Homo sapiens: one gene and its partners. The protein of the gene in region 2 interacts with the protein of the main gene of each other region in a pairwise test. Each region holds a gene or a part of one and is shown on either strand. Other genes may lie near its edges.

Evidence for each region.
Region 1: the proteins of LRRC61 (region 2) and NDUFS1 interact in binary tests that used the Homo sapiens proteins (3 or more experiments, as listed by UniProt).
Region 3: the proteins of LRRC61 (region 2) and PKN1 interact in binary tests that used the Homo sapiens proteins (3 or more experiments, as listed by UniProt).

The regions. Positions count from the first base shown.
Region 1 is NC_000002.12:206,142,400-206,146,052, reverse strand, and holds part of NDUFS1 (NADH-ubiquinone oxidoreductase 75 kDa subunit, mitochondrial isoform 1 precursor), read left to right. Parts: intron 1-1,026; coding exon 1,027-1,161; intron 1,162-1,920; coding exon 1,921-2,035; intron 2,036-3,221; coding exon 3,222-3,367; intron 3,368-3,653.
Region 2 is NC_000007.14:150,335,970-150,338,773, forward strand, and holds the end of LRRC61 (leucine-rich repeat-containing protein 61), read left to right. Parts: intron 1-748; 5' UTR 749-892; coding exon 893-1,672; 3' UTR 1,673-2,187; downstream 2,188-2,804. Other genes in the region: RARRES2 (retinoic acid receptor responder protein 2 precursor), read right to left, coding at 2,656-2,772.
Region 3 is NC_000019.10:14,439,749-14,443,401, reverse strand, and holds part of PKN1 (serine/threonine-protein kinase N1), read right to left. Parts: intron 3,126-3,653; exon of another isoform or gene 3,112-3,125; coding exon of another isoform or gene 3,073-3,111; intron 2,260-3,072; coding exon 1,959-2,259; intron 1-1,958. UniProt on the Homo sapiens protein: PKC-related serine/threonine-protein kinase involved in various processes such as regulation of the intermediate filaments of the actin cytoskeleton, cell migration, tumor cell invasion and transcription regulation.

The DNA of each region.
Region 1 (3,653 bases), on a different chromosome or scaffold from region 2:
AGTTTGCCCAGCTATTACTTTGCACTGGGCCCTTTGGGTCTCAGAGTTATCCAGGAGTTTATGAATAGGTTGAGCTTTCTCTGGTTTCACCTGCACATGTAGCAGCCTCTGTTAGGAATGCTTGCCGCAATTACCACTACAAACTTAGGCTGGTAAAATCTTGGCTATCCTCAGCTACGATGACCTCCAAAGTATCACCTCCACAAACAAGTTTGCCTCGTGCTCCAAGTTAAGTGAGTTGTCTCCATCTGTACCAAAGAAGTTCTCATCTTCACAGCCTGCCCCGGCCTCGAAGAAATTCCATTTTGAGGGGGTGGAGAGGAGCATAGGAGGAGCACTGAGCCCAGCCACCAGTTTTTCAGTGCATAAAAGCTTCCCACATTGTATGTGTTTAGATTTCTAAACTGCTGAAATGGTGGGTTTTGTCATTTTTGGCCAGCTTTACTTTTGCTTTTCAGTGGGAAGGTTTTTTGAGCTCCTTAATCTCCCATAGACAGAAATCCTGCCCCTCTTGTTGAATCGTCCCAGATTTGGCTAGTTGGAGCCCCTTCAAACTAGCTTCTGTGTCAGATAATAGTTTTAAAGCCTTCCTTACTGTGCCAGGAATTTATGTGTTCAAATGTGGGTGTGCCGGGAGCAGTGGCTCACACCTATAATCCCAGCTTTTAGGAGGCCAAGGTGGGAGGATTGCTTGAGACCAGTAGTTCAAGACCAGCCTGGTCAGCATAATGAGACACCGGCTCTACAAAAAATTTTTAAAATGTGGTGAGAGGATAGTTTGAGCCCAGGAGTTCTAGGCTGCAGTGAATTATGATCATGCCACTGTAGCCTGGGCAACAGAGTGAGACCCCAGGGCAAAAAAAAAGGTGGGGGGTTCTTTTATTTAATTGCAGTTCCTCTAAGCTTCATTTTTTAAAGTAATTCAGAAAGGGAATTAATTGTAAAAAAAATTTTTTGGTAAACCAGGTAACAGAAACTTTCTTTATTCCCAAAAGCACCATAGTAAACACCGTATGTGTTTCTCAGAAAGACAGAATCCATTGATGTAATGGATGCGGTTGGAAGTAATATTGTGGTTAGCACAAGAACTGGAGAAGTGATGAGGATTTTGCCACGTATGCATGAGGACATCAATGAAGAGTGGATCTCTGATAAAACCAGGTATATGCTATATTGTTTTCCTTAACTTTTACAGTTTATTTAAAGGAAATTTTATAATAATTTTGAAGAATTATCTTTTATATTTGCAAATTAGTTACTGAATATAGACTACTGGAATCTGAGTTGCTTATATAATGTGATAATACTGACTTTAATAGTCCTAGGTCAATCCCTGGATATTGTATTTACTTTGAGAAAGATATTTTTTCCTCCCACATGGAGAAATTCAAGTAGATTGATACATTCTCAACTTATTTCAGTTTGTTCATTAGAGAAAAGAAGCTAGGCTGGGCGCAGTGACTCACACCTGTAATCCCAGCACTTTGGAAGGCCGAGGTGGGATGATTGCTTGAAAAAGAAGCTGAATAGAAGAGTTTGCACAATATAATTTTGATAAAATATTTAGAGATACTCATGCTTTGTAAATAAAAATGATTTGACTTTTTTAGCTGTCAGATTTTTTTGTGTTGTAATTTTAAGATTGTTCAGTTAGCTGAAAGTATAAGAAATCAAACTTTTTTTTGTATGATTTAAGGGAAGAAATCAAACTTTCAGATGGTATTTTAGTTTTAGGTGAAGTTCATAAAATCTATTAGTTCATCTCTAAAAATATCTGGAATAATTACTTGTATCTAGGTGTTTAGATATTTGACACTTTAACCAGTACTGTATTTAAATAACATTTCTTGTTGATTTAACTTGAAAATTATAGTTACTTCTTTAGCAAGATTCCACAATGGTGTAATTTCTGTTTTCTAGATTTGCCTATGATGGGCTAAAACGTCAAAGACTTACCGAGCCAATGGTCAGAAATGAAAAAGGGCTTTTAACCTATACTTCTTGGGAGGATGCGCTCTCTCGCGTAGCTGGAATGGTAAAATTTGAAATAAATAGTGTTAAATAGTGTTTGTGATTATCAAGAAACATCTTTGCCATGAAGGGGGGGATGTATATTTCTTCCCTTTTTTACTTTTACCAAGATTATGATTTAATCTCCTTCCATTTTACAGACATCTACTGAGGACATATGCTAGATATTATGCTATTAAGGGATATAAAGACCAGAGACACATCATTCCTGCATCCTACAATCTTGTAGTAGAGAAAGTTGCACAATTCAGCAATTATTATATGCAGCTATGAGTAATTATATAAGGAGTAATATGAGTGAGAGCACGTAGGAGGAATGCCTAACTAGGACAGGCATATCAAGATGCCTTCCTTGGAGGTTGCAGTGAGCCGAGATCGCACCACTGCACTCCAGTCTGGGTGACACAGCGAGACTCCATCTCAAAAAAAAAAAAAGCTGCCTTCCTACAGAAGGTGATTCTTAAAGAAGAATCTGAGAATGAATATAAGCTTGCCAGAGTACAAGTGGAGGGAATAGTTTTCTTGTTAGAGAAAGACAACATAAAGCACTAGAGGGAAAGGCAGATACTTCAGAGGAGGTCGCATTTAAGGTAACTATAGTTCCACTTCATTCTCCAGACCTCATTTTGAAGTGCCTTTGTTCCTAAATATAAAACAGCTTCCTTCTAAGTTGATGTTATTAGCTGTGGCCCCACATAACACCTCTGCAGCTTTTCACTTTTAGATTAATTAATAATTGTTGTACAACTTTTTTTGTGTTTTTGAGATGGAGTTTTGCTGTTGTCGCCCAGGCTGGAGTGCGGTGGCGCGATCTCGATCTCGGGTCACTGCAGCCTCTGCCTCCTTGGTTCAAGCAGTTCTCCTGCCTCATCCTCCCGAGCAGCTGGGGATACAGGCGTATGCCACCATGCCCAGCTGATTTTTGTATTATTAGTAGAGATGGGATTTCACCATGTTGGCTAGGCTGGTCTTAAAGTCCTGACTGCAGGTGATCCGCCCACTTCTGCCTCCCAAAGTACTGGGATTACAGGCATGAGCCAGTGTGCCTGGGCATGTTGTAAAACTTTTAATCAGAAGTCTGTTAACTTTTTTTGTACTTGAAAACAAGTACTGTTTTATTTTCTGAACATTTCATTGTGGTCTTTGCTGCGTGTAGGTTTCTTGGTGATGCCCTTTTCATCTGTTTCTAGTTGCAGAGTTTTCAAGGCAAAGATGTGGCAGCAATTGCAGGTGGCTTGGTGGATGCTGAAGCCCTGGTAGCTCTCAAAGATTTGCTTAATAGAGTGGACTCTGACACCTTATGCACTGAAGAGGTCTTCCCCACTGCAGGAGCTGGGTGAGAAATATGAAGCTAGGATCTAGGCTTTCCTTTCTTTTTTTAGTTACAAGTTATGTATAAAATGTGACAACCTGGATTCTCCAACATATCCCCCAGTTTATTTTCATATATAGACCAAGATCAAACCAGAAGTTGTAGGAAATAGAGGAATCCACTTATCACTAAGTATCTCAGGCACAGTGGCTCACGCCTGTAATCCCAGCACTCTGGGAGGCCAAGGCAGGCAGATCGCCTAAGTGCAGGAGTTTGAGACCAGCCTGGCCAACATGGCGAAACCCCGTCT
Region 2 (2,804 bases):
CGTATATCAGTGCTGTTCCATTGATCTGTCCAGCTGAGTCCAGAGCAAAAGAGCTAGCTTTGGCGGGCAGTGAAGTGAGAGCAAGGGTGTGCGACCTAGCCAGGCCACTTACCCCAGCCTTCCCTGTCCCTTCACTACCTTGACCTCAGTTTTCTCCTTCAGGACTAAAGGCCAACTTCTTATGCTCTACAGCTCCAACCAGAGGTACCAGCTGACCCATATAATCTGGAAACAAGTTTGAATTCATTGCTGTTAGAAAGAATTGCAGTAATACTGAGTGAATCAAACAAGGCACATGTGCTCTCGTTTGCATTGCATATACATTGATTATCCCAGAAAGAAAACAAAAGAAACTGGTGATGGTGGTTACCTATTGCCTATTCAAAAATAACGGTTTAAAAAACACCCCAAAACTAATAGGGATGGATCGTGAGTGGTTACGGAAAAAGTAAAATAATGTTTTGCCCCTAGTTTGGATTTGACAGGAAGAACTGGTAATATTGGGCCTGAATCCATCCAGCATGGCCCTAACCAGCCAGGGCCAGTCTGGGCTGCTCCCCTTGGGTTGGGCCTGCACCCCATCCCTGTCACTCAGATGGCTTTTGTGGCCTGTGTCCCAGCTTGGTCTTCAGGTCTTGCCTGGCTGAGATTGTTGGTTTTCATGGTAAAAGCAGGGTCAGACTCCCTGCCGTCACCTGCTGCGTAAGACACAGAAAGTGCTGCCTGCTGACTGACTGTCTCTCCTCAGGGACTGGCTGGCTTCGAGCAGGGCATCGGAACCAGGCCTCCTGGCACTGGCCTGGGTAGAGCCAGGGCGAGCACCAGCTGACCCCCAGTGGAACCCTGTGACAGTCCTGCCAGGGCCCAGGCCATCCCAACCGACTTCCATCTCATGGACCCTCCAGCGGAGAAGCCGGGAGAGGCTGGCGGACTGCAGATCACACCCCAGCTGCTGAAGTCACGCACAGGCGAGTTCTCCCTGGAGTCCATCCTGCTACTGAAGCTGCGTGGCTTGGGACTGGCTGACCTGGGCTGCCTGGGAGAGTGCCTGGGCCTGGAGTGGCTGGACCTATCAGGCAACGCGCTCACCCACCTGGGCCCGCTGGCCTCCTTGCGCCAGCTAGCTGTGCTCAATGTCTCCAACAATCGGCTGACGGGCCTGGAGCCACTGGCCACCTGTGAGAACTTGCAGAGTCTCAATGCCGCAGGCAACCTACTGGCCACCCCGGGCCAGCTGCAGTGTCTGGCTGGGCTACCGTGCCTGGAGTACCTGCGGCTCCGAGACCCTTTGGCCCGGCTCAGCAACCCGCTCTGTGCCAACCCCTCCTACTGGGCTGCAGTCCGGGAGCTGCTGCCTGGCCTGAAAGTCATCGACGGTGAGCGTGTGATTGGGCGTGGTAGTGAGTTCTACCAGCTGTGCCGAGACCTGGACAGCTCCTTGCGTCCCAGCTCCAGTCCAGGCCCCAGAGCCACCGAGGCCCAGCCCTGGGTGGAGCCAGGCTACTGGGAGTCCTGGCCCAGCCGGAGCAGCTCCATCCTGGAGGAGGCCTGCCGGCAGTTCCAGGACACACTGCAGGAGTGCTGGGACCTGGACCGCCAGGCCAGCGACAGCCTGGCCCAGGCGGAGCAGGTACTCAGCTCTGCGGGCCCCACCTCTTCCTTCGTCTTCTGAACGTGGCCTATGGCCCAGGACAGCCTGGCAGGTGGCCTCGCTGCCCCCAGTTCCCCTCTCTGCCCCCACACTCGTCTTAGTTGCTTCACACTGGTCACTGGCCCTGCACACTGGGCTATTGCTTTATCCCTATCCTGAGAGCAGCCCCTCCCCACCATCCCTCCACATGCTGCAAGGACAGACTGAAGGGCTGTGAGCAGGTGTAAGGGCTCCCACATCCGTGAGCCTGTGTCCGCAGCTGCTGCCACTCTGGGCTGCTCCAGCCTGCAACTTAGTGGAAGGAATTACTTCCTCCTGAGGCTACAGGCGAGAAAGGTAGGGATGGGCCAGCCTCCCGTCTCAGCTGTTGGGAGACAGTAGGCAGGCTGAGTGGCCCAGAGCACTCCTGGAAGTGGGACTCCCCTGCCTTGCAAATGTGCCTCTCCAGACTGCTCCTGCACTTACCCCCTCCCCGCAGCACCTTCTCTGCCCGTTCTTGTCCACACATCTATTAAATGCTTCTGTTTTCATTTGCATCCCTGCCTGGCATTTCATGGGGGCACCTCTGGCTCTGGAGCACAGGAGGCTCTGCTCACCCTGCCCACAGGAAGGGGTCCCAGAGGAAGGGTCCTGTCCCCCTGCCCTCTCTGGCCGCCTCTGAGCTACGCTAAGGAGGAAGTCGTGCAACACAAGGAGCTGAGAGGCAGCTGGGAGAGCAGCTTTATTATCATGGCTGGGGATAGAACGGGTTCCTCTCCCTGGGGGCTGGGGTCTTCCACTGGTTACCACCCGCAGCGGTCCTGGAGGCACCACGCATCTCTAGACAAAAGGGGAAACAGGTTTGGGGGTGAGGGAGGTTGCTTCAGCCCCAGTCCCAGCTTTCCTCCCAGGCTTCTGACCTGTCCCCTCCCAGGCTCCCAAAGCCCAGCCCAGCCCCTCAGCATTCCCAGGGCTGGCCTCATCCAGACGGTGCTCTCAGCCCCCTGGTGCCTACCAGTGCTGGCTTAGCTGCGGGGCAGGGCCTTGGAGAAGGCGAACTGTCCAGGGAAGTAGAAGCTGTGGGGGTCCTCACCAGCCCGCTGCACCCTGAGGCACTGGGTCTCCTGGTGCTCCTCAGCCTCCTGCCAGTGCCCAAAACTGTTCAGGCAGTGTA
Region 3 (3,653 bases), on a different chromosome or scaffold from region 2:
CAGCCCAGCCTGGGCATTGCCCCTGGGGCATGGAGGAGGGGGAGCTGGGGGCCAGCAGACAGGCAGGCAGGGGGACACCAGGGCCCAGCAGTCTACCCACCCACCCTCCCAGGGAAACCCCTCGGGGCTGGGGCAGAACCCAGGATGAATGAGTGCAGGCGAGCACCCAGGTGTGTTAGTGTGTCCTTGGTGCTGGGTCCACTGCATTTGAGAGGCCCATGAGTAACTACGTACATGGCTTGTGTGAGCCTATGGGTGTGGGAGTGGTGCCATCTGTGAGCTGCAGGGTGTTGGCATGGCTGAGTGTGTGTTTCCCTAGGTGTTAGTGTAACTCTGTGAGACGCCATGTGTTAGAATGACTGTCTGAGATTGTGGGTGTTGGGAGATGCTCTGCGTACATCTCTGACTGTTGCTACAACTGTGAGTTCAGATCTCCAGGTTGGTATGACTGAGTCTCCGGGTGTTGGCACATCCGGATGCATGTGTCTGCATGAGTCTCTGGAGAGTGGTGTGATGCTTGAGGGGACCCTGGGTGCAGAAATGACTGAGGCCGGGCGCAGTGGCTCACACCTATAATCCCAGCACTTTGGGAGGCCGAGGCAGGCGGATTGCTTGAAGTCAGGAGTTAAATACCACCCTGGCCAACATGGCAAAATCCCGTCTCTACTAAAAATGCAAAAATTAGCCAGGCGTGGTGGCTCATGCCTATAATCCCAGCTACTTGGGAGGCTGGAGCAGGAAAATCACTTGAACCTGGGAGGTGGAGGTTGCAGTGAGCCGAGATCGTGCTATTGCACTTCAGCCTGGGTGACAAGAGCAAAACTCTGTCCTTCCCCACCAAAAAAAATTCAAGCTGCTGAGTGAGGTGGCTCACACCTGTAATCCCAGCATTCTGGGAGGCACATCACCTGAGGTGGGTGGATCAGTTGAGGTCAGGAGTTTGAGACCAGCCTGGCCAACATGGTGAAATCCCATCTCTACTAAAAATACAAACATTAGCCGGGCGTGGTGGTGCAAGCCTATAGTCCCAGCTACTCAGGAGGCTGAGGCAGGAGAATCACTTGAACCTGGGAGGTGGAGGTTGCAGTGAGCTGAGATTGCACCACTGCTCTCCAGCCTGGGTGATGGAGCAAGACTCCATCTCAAAAAGAAAAAAAATGTTAAAACCAATAAAAATGTTTTAAATTAAAAAACAGGCTGGGTGCAATGGCTCACGCCTGTATTCCCAGCATTTGGGAGGCCAAAGCAGGAGGATCACTTGAAGCCAGGAGTTCTAGCCAAGCCCTGGCGGCATACCAAGACCCTTTCTCTACAAAAAAAAAAAAAAAAAAAAAAATTAAATTAGCCAGGCATGGTGGTGTATGCCTTTAGTCCCAGCTACTTGGAAGGCTGAGGTGGGAGGATTGTTTGAGCCCAGGAAATTGAGGCTATAGTGAGCTTTGATCACACCACTGTACTCCAGCCTGGGTGACAAGGCAAGATCCTGTCTCCAAACAAAAACAAAAATAAACAGTCTTTGGTTATCATCCATGTAACTGTGGGAGTTTCTGGGTATTCGTGTGACAGTGTGCACATCCTTGAGTGTTGCCTGGGGTGTTGGCGTGGCTGTGTCTGGAGGTATTCGTGTGACAGTATGTGCACCCTTGGGTGTTGCCTGGGTGTTGGTGTGGCTGTTTTTTTAGGTGTTTGTGTGACTGCATGCACATCCTTGAATGTTGCCTGGGTGTTGGCGTGGCTGTGTCTAGAGGTATTCATGTGACAGCATGCACGGTCTTGAGTGTTACCGGGTGCTGGTGTGGCTGTATGCACCTCTCTGGGTGTTGGTGGCTACGGGGGTCATGGCATGCATCTCCCTGGGGGTCCGTGGAGATGGGTTAACCTGGCTCTGGAGACCATGGGTGAGCCAGTGAGCAGTGGAATCCCTGGAGTCCCGCATCCCCAGAGGCATCCCAGCTCACCGTGGGTGGCCGCCGGGTCGGGAAGCACCACGTGGGCGTGCAGCTCCTGCAGCTGCTGGTGCAGCAGGTCGAGGCGGCGCGAGGAGCCCCGCAGCAGCAGCTCTACGGGGCCCAGGCTGCGGCCCAGGTCAGTGGTGGCCCGCCGCAGGTTCTCAGCACCCTCCTTCAGCTTCAGCTCCTTGCGGATTTCCCGCCGCAGCCGCTCCCGCTCCAGCTCCAGCTGCTGCTGTACCCCGGGGGCCGCCAGGTCTGCCCCGGCCAGGCCCAGCTGCTCTAGCAGGGACCAGCTGCGAGGCTCACTCTGCGGAGGACAGAACAGGGTCAGTGGAGCTAGGAGAACTCCAGGTGCAGACCACATGCAGCCAGCCTGGCCCAGCCTCTGCCCTGGACTGGGGCTCCCAAGACAGGGCCTGCTCTACCTCCTCTGACTCCCAAAACTGGAAGGTGACGAGGCCTTGCCACTGCTTCCTGACCTCCCCAAACTGGGAGGTCTCAAGAGCAGGGCCTTGTCACCCCCACCACCACAGCGTCCCCCACATTAAGGGGGTCTCAAGAATAAGATCTGTCTCCCTTCTGCTGCCTCCCCCAAACTAGAGGGTCCCAAGGGAAGATTCCTTCTTTTCTCTGCTGCTCCCCGAAACTAAGAGGGCCCAAGGGCAGGCCCTGTCTTCTCTCTGCTGTACCCCTAAAACTACAGGGTCCTGAGGACAGGCCCCATCTTCCCTCACTTGTACCCTGAAACTATGGCATCCCGAGGGCAGGCCTCATCTTTCCTTGGCTACACCCCCAAAACTAGGGTATCCCAAGGGCAGGCCAAGTCTTCTCTCTGCTGTACCCCCAAACTATGGGGTCTTGAAGACCCTCATCTGCTCTTCTCCTATGTTCAACAACTGGGACCCTAAAGAACAGAGCCCGGTCTCCTTCCTTCTGTCTCTCCCCAATCTGGGAGCCCCGAAGGGCACTGGATACTCTCATCCTCCAGAGAGAGAACTCTGAGGCCAGTGCCCCATCTCCTCTCCTTGTTCCCAAACTGAGAAGTACCCGGGGAAGGACTACTGGCCTGTGCCACTTGGGGCCCCCTTCTGCCTGCCCCCACAGGGACCCTGGACCCCACCTCCAGCTCCTGCTCCGAGGGGTTATTGGCCTCCGCCATCCTGGGTCCGGGCTGAGGGCCCCGCCCTCTTCCTGAACCTCAGCCCCACCAGGGCCTCTCGGCTGCCACTTCCTCTTTCCTGTCAACTCCCAGCACCCCTCGCGCGGGGCCAACTCCAGGGCATCTAAGGGACCTCCTGTTCCTCTAGATGAAACCCAGGGACAGTCCTTGCTCCCTGTCCCTAGAGAATGTCCAAGGTGCAGGCAGTTTGTACATTCACACACTCATGGTGTATCCATGAGGGGACGCAGGCTCCGAGGGCTGACTTGAGTGTGCACTAACTTTCAAATACATATGTGGATATGCACAGAACACAGGCTCACAAATGTTTGCACGCTTTCTTTTTCTTTCCTTTTTTTTTTTTTTTTTTTTTTTTTGAGACAGAGTCTCCCTTTGTGTTGCCCAGGCTGGAGTGCACTGGTGTGATCTTGGCTCACTGCAACCTCCGCCTCCCAGGTTCAAGCAATTCTCTTGCCTCAGCCTCCCAAGTAGCTGGGATTACAGGCATGTGCCGCCACGCCCAGCTAATTTTTGTATTTTTA